Linked DNA regions of Homo sapiens: region 2 is linked to region 1. A link means that fine-mapping ties the variant in region 1 to the expression of a gene that starts in the linked region. Tissue or cell type: fibroblasts. Region 1 holds a variant in brackets; the other region holds the start of a gene. All regions are shown on one strand. Distances are between the middles of the regions.

The links. PIP is the estimated chance that this variant, and not a neighbour inherited with it, causes the effect.
Region 2: it holds the start of LITAF, and the variant in region 1 is fine-mapped to the expression of LITAF in fibroblasts (GTEx, PIP above 0.99).

What each region holds. Positions count from the first base shown.
Region 1 is chr16:11,624,248-11,632,422 of GRCh38, reverse strand. It overlaps a transcript of LITAF not described here. Among named protein-coding and RNA genes, the nearest start is that of SNN, 40 kb to the left of the region's middle. RefSeq lists an enhancer at 4,805-5,339. The variant C/T (reference allele first, on the strand shown) is at 4,454.
Region 2 is chr16:11,583,530-11,591,704 of GRCh38, reverse strand. It overlaps LITAF (lipopolysaccharide induced TNF factor), which reads left to right and starts at 4,786. Exons shown (of 4, transcript NM_001136472.2): 1 at 4,786-4,819. RefSeq lists silencers at 4,433-4,912, 4,943-5,022 and an enhancer at 5,923-6,032.

The DNA.
Region 1 (8,175 bases):
CCTCTCTGTCCCTCTCCCTGTCTCTGTCCCTCTCCCTGTCTCTGTCATCTCGGTGCCTCCTTCACCTTCTCTCCAGGGTTGAGCCAGTCGTCCTCACCTTTCTCAGTCCATGTGGGGAGGGGCCAGCGGATTGCCTAATCCTGTTCCCCACGGCAGCTGTAGTTACTTGATAATGACCCCTCCCCGAAAGACACGTCCACGACGTAACTCCCAGCACTTGTGAAGGTGACCTGATTTGAAAATAGGTTCTTTGCGAGGCCGGGCGCAGTGGCTCACGCCTGTAATCCCAGCACTTTGGGAGGCCGAGGCGGGTGGATCACGAGGTCAGGAGATCAAGACCATCCTGGTTAACACGGTGAAACCCCGTCTCTACTAAAAAGACAAAAAAATTAGCCGGGCGTGGTGGCGCACACCTGTAATCCCAGCTACTCAGGAGGCTGAGGCAGGAGAATAGCTTGAAGCAGGGAGGCAGAGATTGCAGGGAGGCAGAGATTGCAGTGAGCTGAGATTGTGCTGTTGCACTCCAGCCTGTAGACAGAGCAAGACTCCGTCTCAAAAAAAAAAAAAAAGAAAAGAAAAGAAAATAGGGTCTTTGCAGATGTCATCAAGTTAAGAATCTCGAGATGAGATCATCCTGGATTTAGGGTGGGTTCTAAACCCAATGACGGGTGTCTGTGTAAGCAAGACATGGAGCTTGAAGCCACAGACACCGGAGAGAAGGCGTCCGTGTGGTGACTGGGCACCATGGCTCACGCCTGTAATCCCAGCACTTTGGGAGGTTGAGGAGGGTGAATCCTTTGAGCCCAGGAATTCGCGACCAGACTGGGCAACGTAGTGAAACCCTGTCTCTACCAAAAATATGAAAAACTTAGCCAGCTGTGTGGCATGTGCCTGTAGTCCTGGCTACTTAGAAGGCTGAGGATCACCTAAGCTCGGGAGGTTGTGGCTGTAGTGAGCTATGTTCACGCCACTGCACTCCAGCCTGGGCAACAGAGTGAGACCCTGTCTCAACAACAACAACAAAAAGCCATGTGCAGAGTGTTGCAGCCCCCAGCCCCGGGATGCCTGGAGCCACCAGAAGCTGAAAGAAGCAAGAGAGGACCCTCCCTAGATCCTCCAGGGGGAGGTGGTCCTGATGACATTTTGATTTCAAGCTTTTAGACTCTAGAACAGAGAATACATTGCTGTTTTAAGCGCCTCAGTTTGTGGTGATGTGATAATTGCAGCCACAGGACACCGATAGCTCACTTGTAAGCAGCTTCTCCTGCAGTGCACTTACCCCATGGCGACCTGGTTATTTATTTTCTGCAGCCCTGAGTCCAAATCCCAAGTCCACCACACGCTATGGGCAGGTGACTTTAACCTTGTTAAGCCTCGGTTTCTGCAAATGTAAACAGGGAAAATAATATCAAAAATAAGCAGACAGTGCTTAGATGAGTTGGGTGCAAACAGAAATGACTGCTGTTATCGTGGCTACTGCTATGCATGGGAGGCTACCTCTTGTCCATGCATCAAAGGTAATGGCAGGCCGGGCACCGTGGCCCATGCCTGTGATCTTAGCACTTTGGGAGGCTGAGGCGGGAGGATCATTTTGAGGCCAGGAGTTCAAGACCAGCCTGGCCAACATAGTGAGACCACCCCGACCCCTGTCTCTAGAAAAAAAATAAAATAAAAACATTATCTGGACGTGGTGGTGGGTGCCTGTAGTCCCAGCTATCTAGGAAGCTGAGGTGGGAGGATTGTTTGAGCCCAGGAGTTTGAGGCTGCAGTGAGCTTTGATCTCACCACTGCACTCCAGCCTAGGTGACAGAATGAGACCCTGTCTCACCACCAAAAAAAAAAAAAAAAAAAAGTTGGCCAGGGGCAGGTAGGGGAAGGCACTGCCGCCAGAGAGACCTGAAGCTGTGGAGCAACAGGGACTCCTGTGTGCCTGGAGCAGGCGGGGCACAGGAGGAGGGTTGTGTGGTTTGCAATGAGGCCCAAGAGGTGTCCCCGCCAGAGCAGGGCCTGCGGGAGGCTGGGATTTGTCATCAGGGCTTTAGGACATCATTGGCGAGTTTAAAGCAGTTTCAAAGTAGCACTGTGGCCAAGGCCAGACTGCGGGCACCTCCTGCCAAGTTGCTCCTCAGAGAGGACCCAGCTTTGTGCCCCAAACCAATCGATCAGTCATGCCAGCTGGGGGTACTTTTCCATCCATAGGGGCTGAGGCTAGGAGGGGAAGTTGGGGAAGCCAGGACTCCCAAACACAGAGGTTTGGAGCCCCCCCAACGCCAGGGGTCTGGTTCCTATCTGGACTCCCATGACCTCCGTTCTTCCGGGGTCCTGTGTGCCCGCCTTGCACTTGATGAGAAGGAGCAAAACCTGACCCAGATAGAAGTGCGCTGAGCACCTGTGGGTGCTGGAATGAGTCCAGGAAGGCACCCGAACTCCTTCTCTTCCCTCCCCAACACCTGGCGACTGATGTTAAATCTCCCACCGTAGCAGCCAGGCCTGTGACACTTGGAGATGTTTGCAGAGCCATGATTTGTTGAGCACTTGCCATGCGCCAGGCTGTGGGGGGAAGAGCGCCTACCACATGGCCTTGTTAATCCGTACCGCACTCCATGAGCTGCGCGCCCCTGGAGCTCCACGCTGGAGACTTGAGTCAACCCAGAATCATGATTCGAAACTGGCTGCCTCTGCCTCCGAAGCCCTGGGCCCTCAAGCACTGAGCTCAGCAGTGTCTGTTTAATTCTTCCCACCCCAGCTGCAACCAGTCCATGAGCTCCTTCCCCAAAAGCAGGTGTGCAGCCAAGAAGAGGAAGGAAGGAGCCGGCTGCTTCGAGTGTGGCCGCTGACTGCTCACAGCTGTGTTTCCCACCCCTCACCCACCCTTCTTGGCAGCCCAGAGGGACCCCAGAAGGACCGACTGGCCGAGGACAGGTCCTCAGCAGGGCCCCCTTGCCTCCTGGTGGGACTGACTCAGAAAACTCTTACTTCAGGCCTGCCTTGGGATCAGGCCTCCAGCTGGGACCTGTCTGCTGTTCTTCCTCCTGCACCTTGTCTCCTTACTCCCCTCTTCTGAGAACCCTCACTTCTAGAAAACCACATGCACCCACATCTCCATCACAGGCTCTGCTTCTACGGAACCTCAACTAGGATGAGGTCATGTCTGACTTCCCGGCTGAGTGCCTTCCCCAAAGTCCTCGGTGTCCTGCGGACAGAGGCTCCTTCCCTGCGCTCAGCCTTCTGAGCCTTCCTCATCTGATGCCTGTTAGGCTCCCTTTGCTGCTGAGGTCCTGGGTGCCATCCCAGCACTTGGTAAGAGGGGGCAAGCCTGAGTGCCGTGGCTTATGCCTGTAATCCCAGCACTTCGGAAGGGCGAGGCGGGAGGATTACTTGAGGCCAGGAGTTCAAGGCCAGCCTGGGCAACATAGTGAGATGCCAGTCTCTAAAAAAACTAAAATAGGCTGGGAGCAATGGCTCACGCCTATAATCCCAGCACTTTGGGAGGCCAAGGCGGGCAGATCACTTGAGGTCAGGAGTTCGAGACCAGCCTGGCCAATATGGCGAAACTCCATCTCTACTAAAATACAAAAATTAGCTGGGCATGGTGGTGTGCGCCTGAAATCCCAGCTACTAGGAATGCTGAGGCAGGAGGATCACTGGAACCCGGGAGATGGAGGTTGCAGTGAGCTGAGAACACGCCACTGTACTCCAGCCTGGATGACAGAGCAAGACTCAGTTTCAAAAAAAAAAAGAAAAGAAAAAATATTAGCCAGCCGTGGTGGCACACACCTGTAATCCCAGCTACTTGGAGGCTAAGGCGGGAAGATCCCTTGACCCTAGGAGTTTGAGGCTGAAGTGAGCTATGATCGTGCCACTGCACTCCAGCCCGGGCAACAGAGCAAGATCTTGACTAAAAGAAACAAAAAAATAAAAAAATAGAAAGGGTCAAGACCAACTTTGTTTTTTCCCTTTCATTGGATACTTTCGGTAAAAGCAAGATCTCCGGATGTCTCCTTGTGCTCTGAGAGCATCTACTGGGTGTTGATCTGGGTTGGGCGTTCTGCAAAGCGTTTACTTGGAACTCTAGAAAGAGTTCCCAGGACTCTTAGCTGGAAGAGAAAGGAGAGGAGACACGCAAACATGGAAAATCTGGGGCGGCCCCAAGTTTAGCGAGTTATCTGGGGCCACACCAACCTCAGGGCTGGTTGGGGCTGGGATGAGTCATGGCTGTTGGGCAGGATTACCTGCTTGAGAAACGAACCAGGTCTTATTTGGGTATTGATTCATTACCACAGAATGGGAAATATTTTTCCCTTCCTGTGAATCTTTCAAGGAGCAAATGTGTCTTTGTGTTCTGCAGGACTGTGCTTGTCTTGGGCCAATGGAGAATTACAGGCCTTGTTTTTTTTTTTTTTTTTTTTTTTTGACAGAGTCTCACTCTGTCGCTCAGGCTGGAGTGCAGTGA[C/T]GCAATCTCACTGCAACCTCCGCCTCCTGGGTTCAAATGATTTTCCTGCCTCGGCCTCCCGAGTAGCTGGGACTACAGATGTGTGGTACCACGCCCGGCTAATTTTTGTATTTTTATTTATTTTTTGATATTGAGTCTTGCTCTGTTACCCAGGCTGGAGCACAGTGGCACAATCTCGGCTCACTGCAACCTCTGCCTCCCGGATGCAAGCCATTCTCCTGCGTCAGCCTCCAGAGTAGCTGGGGCTACAGGCGTGCACCACCACACCTGGCTAATTTTTGTATTTTTAGTAGAGATGGGGTTTTGCCATGTCGGCCAGGCTGGTCTCGAACTGCTGACCTCAGGTGATCTGCCCACCTCGGCCTTCCAAAATGCTGGGATTACAGGCGTGAGCCGCCACTCCCAGGCCTTGTATTTTTTTAAGTCTAATACATTAGTCAGGATGAATAGCAGAATGCTGCAAAAACCAGAATCCCACTGGAACTGGTTTATGCCATTGCAGAATGTATTGTGTCACTGGGAAGTGGGGAGGGCAAGAGCTTCAGGCCTGGCTGGATCCAGAAGCTCAGACCATGCTGTCAGGGATCTGTCTCCAACTCCAAGCCTGGCTGTTCTCTGTGTTGGCTTCATTCTCCAGTGGGCTTGCTCTACCTGCTGGCAAAGATGGTGCTGGGCAGCTCCGGGTTTTCATCTCACCAGCCTTGTAAAGAATTCGTCTTATTCAAGGAGCTCCAGCAAGGGTCTTGGGGTTGATTGTCATTGGCTTGGCTTGGGTCACATGCCCATTACTGGAGCAATCACTGAGGCTCAGGAGATGCTGGGTAGCCACTGGCCAGGCTTGGTCATGTGCATGACACAGCCCCTGGGGCTAGGAAGGAGGGACGCGTCTGCAGCAAAGGTAAGAGAGGCCGTCCACACCCGGGTTCCTAGGGGGATGGGATCAGACTGGAAGAAGCTTGTTTAGCCAGGCATGGTGGTGCGTGCCTGTAGTCTCAGCCACTTGGGAGGCTGCGGTGGGAGGATCACCTGAGCCCGGGAGGTAGAGGCTGCAGTGAGCCAAGATCGTGCCACTGCACTCCATCCTGAGCGACAGAGACTCCATTTCAAAAAAAAACAAAAAAAAGAAGAAATAAATTTTCACCAGTAGCACATTAAATAAAAATATAGTGGACCTAGTAGAGCTTGAAATGTTTTAAAAGGCCGGGCAAGGTGGCTCACGCCTGTAATCCTAGCACTTTGGGAGGCCAAGGTGGGCGGATCACCTGAGGGTGGGAGTTCGAGACCAGCCTGGCCAACATGGTAAAACCCCGTCTCTACTAAAAAAAAATTACAGGCTGGGCGCGGTGGCTCACGCCTGTAATCCCAGCACTTTGGGAGGCCGAGGCCAGCAGATCATGAGGTCAGGAGTTGGAGACCAGCCTGGCCAATATGGTGAAATTGGTCTCTACAAATACAAAAATTAACCAGGCATGGTGATGCCTGCCTGTAGTCCCAGCTAGTCAGGAGGCTGAGGCAGAAGAATCCCTTGAACCCAGGAGGCAGAGGTTGCAGTGAGCTGAGATTGCACCACTGCACTCCAGCCTGGGCAACAGAGCAAGACTGTCTTAAAAAAAAATTACAAAAATTAGCAGAGCATGGTGGTATGAGCCTGTAGTCCCAGCTGCTTGGGAGGCTGAGGCAGGAGAATTGCCTGAACCTGGGAGGCAGAGGTTGCAGTGAGCTGAGATTGTACCACTGCACTCCAGCAAGACTCTGACTCACTGTATAAAAAGAAGTTTTTTTTTTTGTTCGTTTTGTTTTTTTAAAGTAAAGTAGTGGGATCTTTCTCACAAACATAGGGGAACTAATTCATACCATTTATTGGAACAAGTCCTAAATTCTGGAACTTTCATCAATCAGCCCAGTCTCTGGAACTCCTGAGAAATTTACTAAGCGCATGGGATCTGGAATTGACTCCCAGGTTCAAATCCTGGTTCTGCCACTGTTCAGCTGTGTGGCCTTAGGCAGGTCACCCAACCTCTCTGTGCTTCCATTTCCTCATGGGCACTGGGGTCATGAGGTTTTCTGCCTCGTAGGACCATTGTGAGGATCAGATGAGGCTCCAAGAGCTTAGGGGGACTTGTCTGTGTCTCAGGGCTGGAGTTAGAACTAGCCTGGCTGACTCCAAGTTCTGGGCTCTTTCTGTCTCCAGCGCGGGCACACAGCAGGGACTCACTGACTGTAAAATGAATGAATAAATGAAAGATTAAAAGGGAAGGTTGATCTCTTTCTGCTCTGATTTCTGTCACTGCATTCCTTCAGCACACAACCTAGGGGAACTCAGGGTTTCTTAAGAAGCCTGTCTTAGACTTGGTTCCCCCAGAGGCTGATGCTGAGACAGAAATTTGGGTGCAAGTAATTTATCTGGAGCCAGGCACAGTGGCTCACACCTGTAATCTCAGCACTTTGGGAGGCGGAGATGGGCAGATTGCTTGAGCCCAGGAGTTGGAGACCAGCCTAGGCAACATGGCGAAACCCTGTCTCCACTAAAAATGCGTAAATGAGCCTGGCATGGTGGTACGTGCCTGTAGTCCCAGCTACTCAGGAGGCTGATGTGGGAGGATTGCTTAAGCCTAGGAGGCAGAGGCTGCAGTGAGCCGAGATCGCACTACTGCATTCCAGCCTGGGTGACAGAGCGAGACCCTGTCTCAAAAAAAAAAAAAAAGGTTTTTGGGAGGTGATCTCGGGAGACACCACCCACCATCACACCGGACCACAGTGACCTTCAGAGAGTCACGGCCACTGCTTTGTCTCCACTCTCCAAATTTCACTCATGTTCCTCTTTTGGTCATCTCTAACCAGAACCACATGGGGAGGAAATTCTGGGAAATTGAGTTCTCAGCTTCAATGAGTTGGCACAGCACAGTTCACCCAGCAGTTTGTCTCACCTTCCTGGGTCCTCCAGTCCAGAGCTGGTTGGTTGGGGCACCTTGGGTCTCCTTCACGTGACCTCTCACCCTCCTGGGGGCTGTTTGCCTTCTTATGGGGTAGTCTTATCGGGCAGTCTCAGGCAGCACGCCAGGAGGGTCAGAGTGGAAACTAAGCCTCTTAAGTCTTAGCCTCAAAATTTGTAGAGTCACTTCTACCATATTCTATTGGTCAAAGCAAGTCTCGAGGCCACCCAGATTTGAGGGGTAAGGAAATAGACTCTACCTCTTGACAGGAAGAGTTGCAAAATACTGCGACCATGTTTTTCATTTTCAGTCGATCACACTTCCCTTCCTGAAGATGTTTAACTGCAGTCTGTTGGAAATTTATCATGATAAATCTGTAAACATAGGGTGATAGTGAATATAAATGGAGACCCTGTAGAGATGTGCAGTGCACAACCTGTGCAACTGTCACGGCAGCCTTGCTGTGCAAGATGTCATAGAACTCACCTATTCTTCTCACATGCCCCACTGTGGTAGGCATTTGTTATTTTTGAATGTCAGCATCTAGGGCTCCTTCTGAGGATAGTAACTACCTATTTCCATTTCTATTCTAGTGAGGCTGACAGTCTCAGACTCCAGGGAGGGGCTTGTTATCATGAATTCTATTGCTGTAACCATAGAGATTGACCAGAGGATGGGCACGTGACCCACACCGGACCAGTGAGATTCAACCGTGGGAGTTTAGCTGGAACTATTGGAAAATATTCTCTTTCCACCAAAAATGTTTAGTTGGTTGGGGATAAGGCTGGA
Region 2 (8,175 bases), 41 kb after region 1:
CACGCCACTGCGCTCCAACCTGGGTGACGGAGTGAGACTCTGTCTCAAAAAAAAAAGACTCTTTCTCCATTGAATGGTCTTGGCATTCATTGATCATAGATATATGGTTTATATGTAGACTCCCAATTTTATTTCATTGATTTATATGTCTATTCTTATGCCAGAACCACATGCTTTGATTACTGTATCTCTGTAGTAAGTTTTAAAATCAGAACGTGTGGGCCAGGTGCAGTGGCTCATACCTGTAATCCCAGCACTTTGGGAGGTGGAGGTGGGAGGACTACTTGAGCCCAGGAGTTCAATACCAGCCTGGGCAACATAGTGAGACCACATCTATACAAAAAATTTAAAAATTAGCTAGGCATGGTGGTGCGCACCTGTAGTCCCAGCCACTCTGGAGGCTGAGGTGGGAGGGATCGCTTGAGCCCAGGAGTTTGAGGCTGCAGTGAGCTATGATGGCACTACTACATCCCAGAATGGGCAACAGAATAAGACTCTGTCTCAAAAACAAAGTGTAAAAAACAGAAACAGTGGATCCTCCAACTTTGTTATTTTTCAAGATTGTTTTGGCTATTTGAAATCCCTTGTAATTCCATATTAATTTTAGGATCAGCTTGTCTATTTTTGCCAAAAAAGGCAGCTGGAATTTTGATAGAGATTACATTGGACCTGGGCCGGGCACGGTGGCTCACACTTGAAAGCCCAGCAATTTGGAAGGCCGAGGCAGGTGGATCACTTGAGTCCAGGAGTTCGAGACCAGCCTGGCCAACACGATGAAACTCTGTCTCTACTAAAAATACAAAAATTAGCCAGGCTTGGTGGTGCACACCTGTAGTCCCAGCTACTCGAGAGGCTGAGGCAGGAGAATCGCTTGAAACCAGGAGGCAGAGTTTGCGGTGAGCCGAGATCGTACCACTGCACTCCAGCCTGGGCAACAGAACGAGACTCTATCTCAAAAACACAAAACAACAACAACAAAAACAGAGATTACATTGGACCCGTACATCAGTTTGGGAAGTATTGCCATTTGTGATCATTACTTTTACACATCAACGTGGCTAGCCTATAGTACCCAGTTATTCAATTAAACACCAATCTAGATGTTGCTGTAAAAGTATTTTGCAGATGTGGTTTATTTTAGTTGACTTCAGGTAAAGGAGACGGTCTCCTTTACTTAATTCAATACTTTATCACAAAGTATTGAATATCTCATGTAATTTACTGAATACTATACTAAAAGTTAAAAACAGAATGGTTGTAAGGGTACTTGAAGTACGGTTTCTTTTGAATGTGTATCACCATCATAAAGTCAAAAAATCATAATTGAACCATCATTAAGTCTGGTACCATCTATATATGTATATATCTCCTCTCTCTTTCTTTGAAAGATTTCTGACTGATATACCACTTTAACTATATTAAATCTTCTGGTCCATGAATGTCTTTCCATTTATTTAGTTTTCTTTAATTTCTTTCAGCAATGTTTTGTAGTTTTCAGTGTATAGGTCTTGTTTGAACTTCCTTAGTTAAGCGTTTTCCTAAGTATTACATTCTCTCTCTCTCTTTTTTTTTTTTTTAGAGATGGGGTCTCGCTATGTTGCCCAGGCTAGATTCAAACTCTCATGCTCAAGGGGATCCTTCTGCCTCAGCCTCTTGAGTAGCTGGGACTACAGGTGTGTGCCACCATACCCAGCTTCTATCCTTTTGAGGCTATTGTAAATGGAGCCATTTTCTTAATTTCATTTTTGGATTGCTCATTGCTAGTATATAGAAATGCAACTGGCTGGGTGTGGTGCCTCACACCTGTAATCCCAGCACTTTGGGAGGCCCAGGCAGGTGGATGGCTTGAGCCCAGGAGTTTGAGACCAGTCTGGGCAACATAGCAAAGCCCTATCTCTACAAAAAATTACAAAAAAAAACTAGCTGGGCACAGTGGTACATGCCTGTAGTCCCAGCTACTGAGGAGGCTGAGGTGGGAGGATCGCCTGAGCTCAGGAGGTCAAGGCTGCAGTGAGCTGTGATCGAGCCACTGTACTGCAGCCTGGGTGACAGAGACCCTGTCTCGAAAAAAAAAAAAAAAAAAAAGCAACTGATTTTTGTATGTTAATCTTAAATCCCACAACTTTGCTGAACTGGTTTATTAGCTCTAATAGGTATTTAGTACATTCTTTAGGGTTCTTACATATAGGATCATATCACCTGTGAATAGAGATAGCTTCACTTTATCCTTTTCAATCTGGATGCTTTTATTTTTCTTGCCTAATGGCAATGGCCAGAACCTCCAGGACAATGTTGGACAGAGGTGGCCAGAGTGGGCACTTTGGCTTGTTCCTGTTCTTAGGGGTAAAACTTCCAGTCTTTTACCATTAAGTGTGTCATTAGCTCTGGGATTTTCATAGAAGCCCTAAGGTTGAGGAAGTTCCCTTCTATTTCTAGTTTATTATTATTTTTTTAATCATGAAAGCATTATTGGATTTCTTCAAATGCTTTTTCCGTCTATTGAGATGATCACGTGGCCCAGTTTACTTTTACCCCCTGGTTGGAAGCCTTGGGTTGGAAATTCAATCTCTGTGGTTTTTTGGGGATCAAAGAAAAGAGTTACAGTCTTATAGCTCTCCCCATAAATAATTGCAAGCTCACAGCCGTGGTAAGTGTTTAGGATGGATAAAAACACAAAGCTGGCTCCTGTTGCTGCTCAGCAGTTGGGGAAAGAAAAACAAATGAAGATGTGGTAGTATTCAGTAAAGGACAGAAGAAAATTCAGGCTTACTACTGCTTTTTACAGGAAGGAAGGGAGGAAGCGAGGAAGGGAGGAAAGGAGGAAGGGAGGAAGGAAGGAAGGAAGGAAGGAGAAAAGGTTGGGAGGGAGGGAGAGACAGAAAGGAAGGAAGGAAGAAAAGCATTCATACAGGGATGTTTCTTGAACGTTATCTCTGAGAGATTTTCCCTAGGTGTTATGTCTCCCTAGCAATGGTCTGTGATATTCTGTCTTAATGTCAGTATAATAATTGGTACCTTTGCAAGCCTTGGTTGCATCCTGAGAATGGAGGAATGGCAGAGGTTGGGTGTAATCCAATTTCCTGTTCTTCTCTTCTCCCTCCCTCCCTCCCTTCCTTCTTTCCTTCTCTTTCTTTTCCCTTTCTTTCTTTCTCTTTCTTTCTTCTTTTTCTTTCTTTTTTTTTTCTTTCTCTTTTCCCTCTTTCCCTCTTTCTTTCTTTGTTGCTTGCTTGCTACAGTGCAGTGGCTCGATTATAGCTCACTACAGCCTCAACCTCCGGAGGTCAAGGAATCCTCCCACCTCAGCCTCCTGAGTAGCTGGCACATGCCACCACTCCACCGCTTTATTATTATTCTTTTAATTAAAAAAATTTTTATAGAGATGGAGTCTCACTATGTTGTCCAGCCTGGCCTTGAACTCCTGGGCTCAAGAGATCCTCTGGCCATGGCCTCCCAAAGTCCTGAGACTATAGGCAAGAGCCACTGCACCCGCCCCCTTCATATTTTAAAAGCAGTAAAATGTTGCCCACACTAATAACATCTACATGGGAACCTCCTATGCTTGGGAGAACTTTGAAATCCCTTCCAACTTGGTAACTCGTCCACGGCTGAGGGTGGCCCGTCAGTGGACATGGCGCAAGGTGGCAAGAACTTGGGGCTGGGGACACTTTGCTGAGGGACCCGGGACAAGCCACACTCCCTATCTGGGCCTCACTATCTTTAGGACCTCGGGTAAAGGCATGGGATTTGGGCACCGGAGGGTTCTAAGATCCAGGTCTTTGCCAGCATGGGGCTCGGAAGCTCCCTGTCCAAATGGCGTTTGTTTGTGGATGGCCACATCATGGTTCTGCCCATCTCCTGACTCTGTGTACTCTGAAAGCCAGGCATGCTTCTTAATTCCCTCTAATGATTTCCCAGAGAGCCTGCTGGATCCAGGCTGCTGCTGTTATCACTGCAGCCGGCCGATGGGGCTCCAAGCAGACGGGCAGATGGCACCCATTTAGGGGCGGATGTGAAATGGGGCTACTGATTTCCAGAGCTTGCTTTCAGTGATGGCTGAGAAAGGCCTACCTGGCGGCACGGACCACCCTGGGGGCACAAAGCGGACAGGCAGCTGATAAGCCTTACCTAATACCTATCCTGTGCTAAAAACTTTACCATCTTCCCAGTTCACTCCCAGTCGGTCTTAGGAGACAGGACCGCTATTGTGCCCATTTTGCAGACAGGAAGCCGAGCTCAGAGAGGATGGGTAACATGCCCGAAGGCACAGAGAGTGTCTTGGTCTGTCCGGACGCGTCTGTAGAGTTACAGGAAGAGAAGGGCCGCCCTCCAGAGGGCCGGGAGCGCCCCAGCGCGGGTCCGGGGTCGAGGTTGGTGGTCCCGCCGCCTGGAAGTGGTGGAGCGGCGCGGGGAGGGGGGAAAGTGGGGAGAGCCGCGAGCGGCAAATCAGGAGGGAGGGCCAGGCTGTCGGGGGCGGACGGGTGGGGCTGGCACCGAGAGGCAGGGGCAGGATAGGAGAGTGGGGGAGACACCAGGTCCGCGCCAGGCGTCTCGGGGGTAAGCCTGGGAAGCTCTGGGGTGGCGAGCGAGCCGGGTGTGGGATGGAGCCTGGGGGCGATCAGAGTGAGGCGGGGAACCGGCGGTGGTCTCGCCTGGGGCCCAGGTGCGGGCCGCGGGGGCGGGAGAAGCCGGAAGCCCAAGCCGGCCGCGCTCCGCCCCGGCGGGTCCAGCCCCCGCCCCCGTCCCCGCCGCCCGGCCCTTTTCTCGGGGCGCCCGAGAGGCCAGCTCAGACCTCCCGGCTCGACAGGCGGCGCGGGCGGCGGTGAGTGCGGCGCGGGGACGCCGGGGCGCGGGGACCAGCGGGAGACAGCGGGGGGCCGGTGGCGCCAGCACCTGCTGGGGGCCCCGGGCACTGAGCCCTTGGCTGGGGCCTCCTGGGATGCCAGGGGGCGCGGGTCGGGTCGCGGGCATCGAGGCGCGGCGGAGGGCGTGGGGGCCCGGCCGGGGCGGGGTCCGGCCTCCCAGCGCTGGTCCCGGCCGCGTCTCCGGTTGGGTTCAGCTCCTGCGTCCCAGAGTGGCCCGATCGCGCGTGGCGGGGTCGTCCGGCCCCCACCCGAACGAGCGCCCTTCGCGGCCCGCCGCGTCCCCCTCCCCGGAGAGGACGGCCCCTGGGCTTTTTAGAAAAAGGCGCGATTCTCTCTAGTGACTCAGGTTGAGATTTCCAGAAATATCCCCCGGGGGTTCAGAAACAAAACCAAAACAAACAAAAAAACCCCAACGAATTCCCAAATGCTATTTGCCAAACATTTGACTTCTAGGGGCGCGGGTACCCGCGTTTCTCTCCCTGCCCCCGCGACTTCGCGCAAGATCCGGGAAGGACACCCGAGGCCCCTGGGAGACCCTGGGGAGGTGAAAATCAGAGAGCGAAGCGGGCCGTGGCCCCTAGGCCTGACCCCTCCCCGCGGGGTAAGGCGGGCACCCCGCGAGCGCAGGGGTCCTCTTACTGCTGATGGCACCCAGCTCTGGGCCCAGACGCCGCTCACCGTCCACCGCCGGTGCTGGGTAGGTGCTGGTGGGACCAGCTGGTGACTGGTGGCAGAAGTGGATCTCGCCCCTCCCTGCCAAGCTAGGCAAATACCCTCCCCGCTCTGGTTTGCAGGTCACTGTGGATAGGTGGTCAGTTGGTGGTGTGCCCGAAGCTCTTCGGGGTCAGGGAGAGGAGGTGATAGGGGAAAGGTGTATGTTCTGGAAGGGCCAGTCATGCTTCAGGGACCAGGCTAGTTGGACCTTCACTGGTTTTCTACTTCCCGACAGTGGAGCTGATGTCACTGGCTGTTGGACTGAGCAGTGGTCACTGGGAAATCTACAGTTTGTGGAAGCCACGGGGTCTTCCAAGCTCCTACCAGTCTTCCCAAAGAGGATGCCTCCCTCCCCTTGGCCTGGTGCACTGGTGCTGGTTCAAAGACTGTCTGAAGCCCAGCTTGGGGTCCTCTTTAGGAAAGCCATGATTTGCCTTAATGTGTGCTTGGCTGCTTCATCTGCCCTCTCACCCCCTGCCTTCTCAGAGTGACTCTTTTTAGGACTTCCTATTTAGGACTAACCCAGATGCCTACAGAGAGAAGTGCAGGCTGGTATCTGGAATTCCACCAGTGTTTTGGTTTTATCAGTTGGAGCAGGATCTAGATGGCGTGTGACTTGCTTTACCTGGCATAGAGTAACACCCATATTGCACTTGGCTTTCTTCTCCACCAGCCCTTGCTCTGGGAACTAAATGTGCACCAAACTCTCTAAGAAACATTTAATTGTAATCTACCATGAGGGAGGCCCATCTCCCTCTTTCCTGTTACTTTAAGGCATGAATAATTGATGCATTTATTCACATTTGAGAAAGTATCTTGTAATGTTTTCACAGATTAAGTGACTGGGTGATTGATCTAAGACGTAGGATCAATTTCTTTCTTTTTTTTTTTTTTTTTTGAGACAGAGTCTCACTGTCGCCTAGGCTGGAGTGCAGTGGTGCGATCTCGGCTCACTGCAACCTCTAACCCTCCCCACCCCACCTCAACCCCCTGCCTGAGTTCAAGCAATTCTAGTGTCTCAACCTCCCAAGTAGCGGGGATTACAGTTGGGTGCCACCATGCTTAGGTAATTTTTGCATTTTTAGTAGAGACAGAGTTTTGCCATGTTGGCCAGGCTGTTTTCGAACTTCTGACCTCTAGTGATCCACCTGCCTTGGCCTCCCAAAATGCTGGGATTACAGGTGTGAACTACCTCACCCGGCCCATTTCTTAAGTCTCTAAAATAGTAGATTGAAGTGTAATTCACTGTCTTTGGGGAATACATTTCCCTTTGTTACTTCCGTTCCTTTTATGGGCGGGCTGTTGAGAAATAAAGCGCTACCCTTGCCGTGTAAAGGATGCAGAAGAATGGCTCCTGGTCCTGAGGGGTTTACGCAATGGGTAGAAAGTAGAAACACACACCGGCGAAAAAGCTGGTGCTTGCTAATGCCCTTGTAACTCCAGAAAGGGCTTGAGAACAGTGGAAAGGAGGCAGCTAAGTTAGAGAAAGTTTCATGGAAAAACTGAGGCCTGAGCACATGTGGCAGAAGGAACATGAGGACATAGTTCAGACAAACAGGAGGGTCTCAGTAGAGCTGTGGAAGAGGTACAGACAAGCCCAGGTGGTTGAAGACAGTAAATGGAAAATCCACTGAGAGGAAGGAGCTGGAAGGCGTTTCCAGCCCAAGTTAATTTTCAAGAAAATAAACAGTGCATATTTTGCTGACATTACCCATCCTCACTGCTCAGAGGTGTATAATAGCACTTTGAGAATGGGCTGGTGCCGTTTTGTGACTTAAACTTCTCCCACTGAATAGGAATTTCCCCAGAGCTACAGTGAGGGTGGAAAAAAGAGGATCTGCAAGAGGAAGTCCTGTATTCTTGGCACTGTGACTTGTCCTCTATTTGTTTTCGCTTTTACAGCAGTGAAAATAGCCCCGTGGGTGAGGCGGTCTATCAGGTAAATAGACTTCCTTAGTTCTGTGTTTCTTTAGCACACATATTTTTGACGTCTCCCGGGTCTGTTTGGCCACCCATGGTCTGTTCTGAATTTGATTGATGTTTACTTGCCTAAGAATTGTTATTTGAGGTCAAGTGGCATTTTCCAGGGTCCTCATAATTTCATCTTGTTGTTTGAGCCTGTATTGATTGACACTCTGGACACAGGTGACAACAGCTTTGTAGCTAATGAAGTTGTCCCTTGGCTGCAGGTTATTTCAGTAGAAGAATTGTGTAATTTCATAGAGCTTAAGGCATGGACACAAGAAAGGAACCATTCTGGAGGGTGTCTATGTGATGGTAATTCTCTGCTCACCTCGCAGTAGGTAGGAGTTTATATACCAGGATCCAAAGCTGGAGGCTTCAGAGAAAATAATGTTGGAGAATTTAAGCTATTTAGCTCATGGAGCCTTAGATTTAATTGACAGTGTGCCTCAGGTAAGTTTAAGAGCTTAATGATGTCTTGCCTTAAACTTGAATCCATGAGGTTATTCCTAGATGATGCACTGATAGTTTGAAATTTTTTATTAAAAAATATTAAAGTGTGGAAGATAAAGAAGAAAGGCATAATCTTATAGAACGAAACAACTACCACTGGCTGTCCTTATCGGGCGGCTTCTGT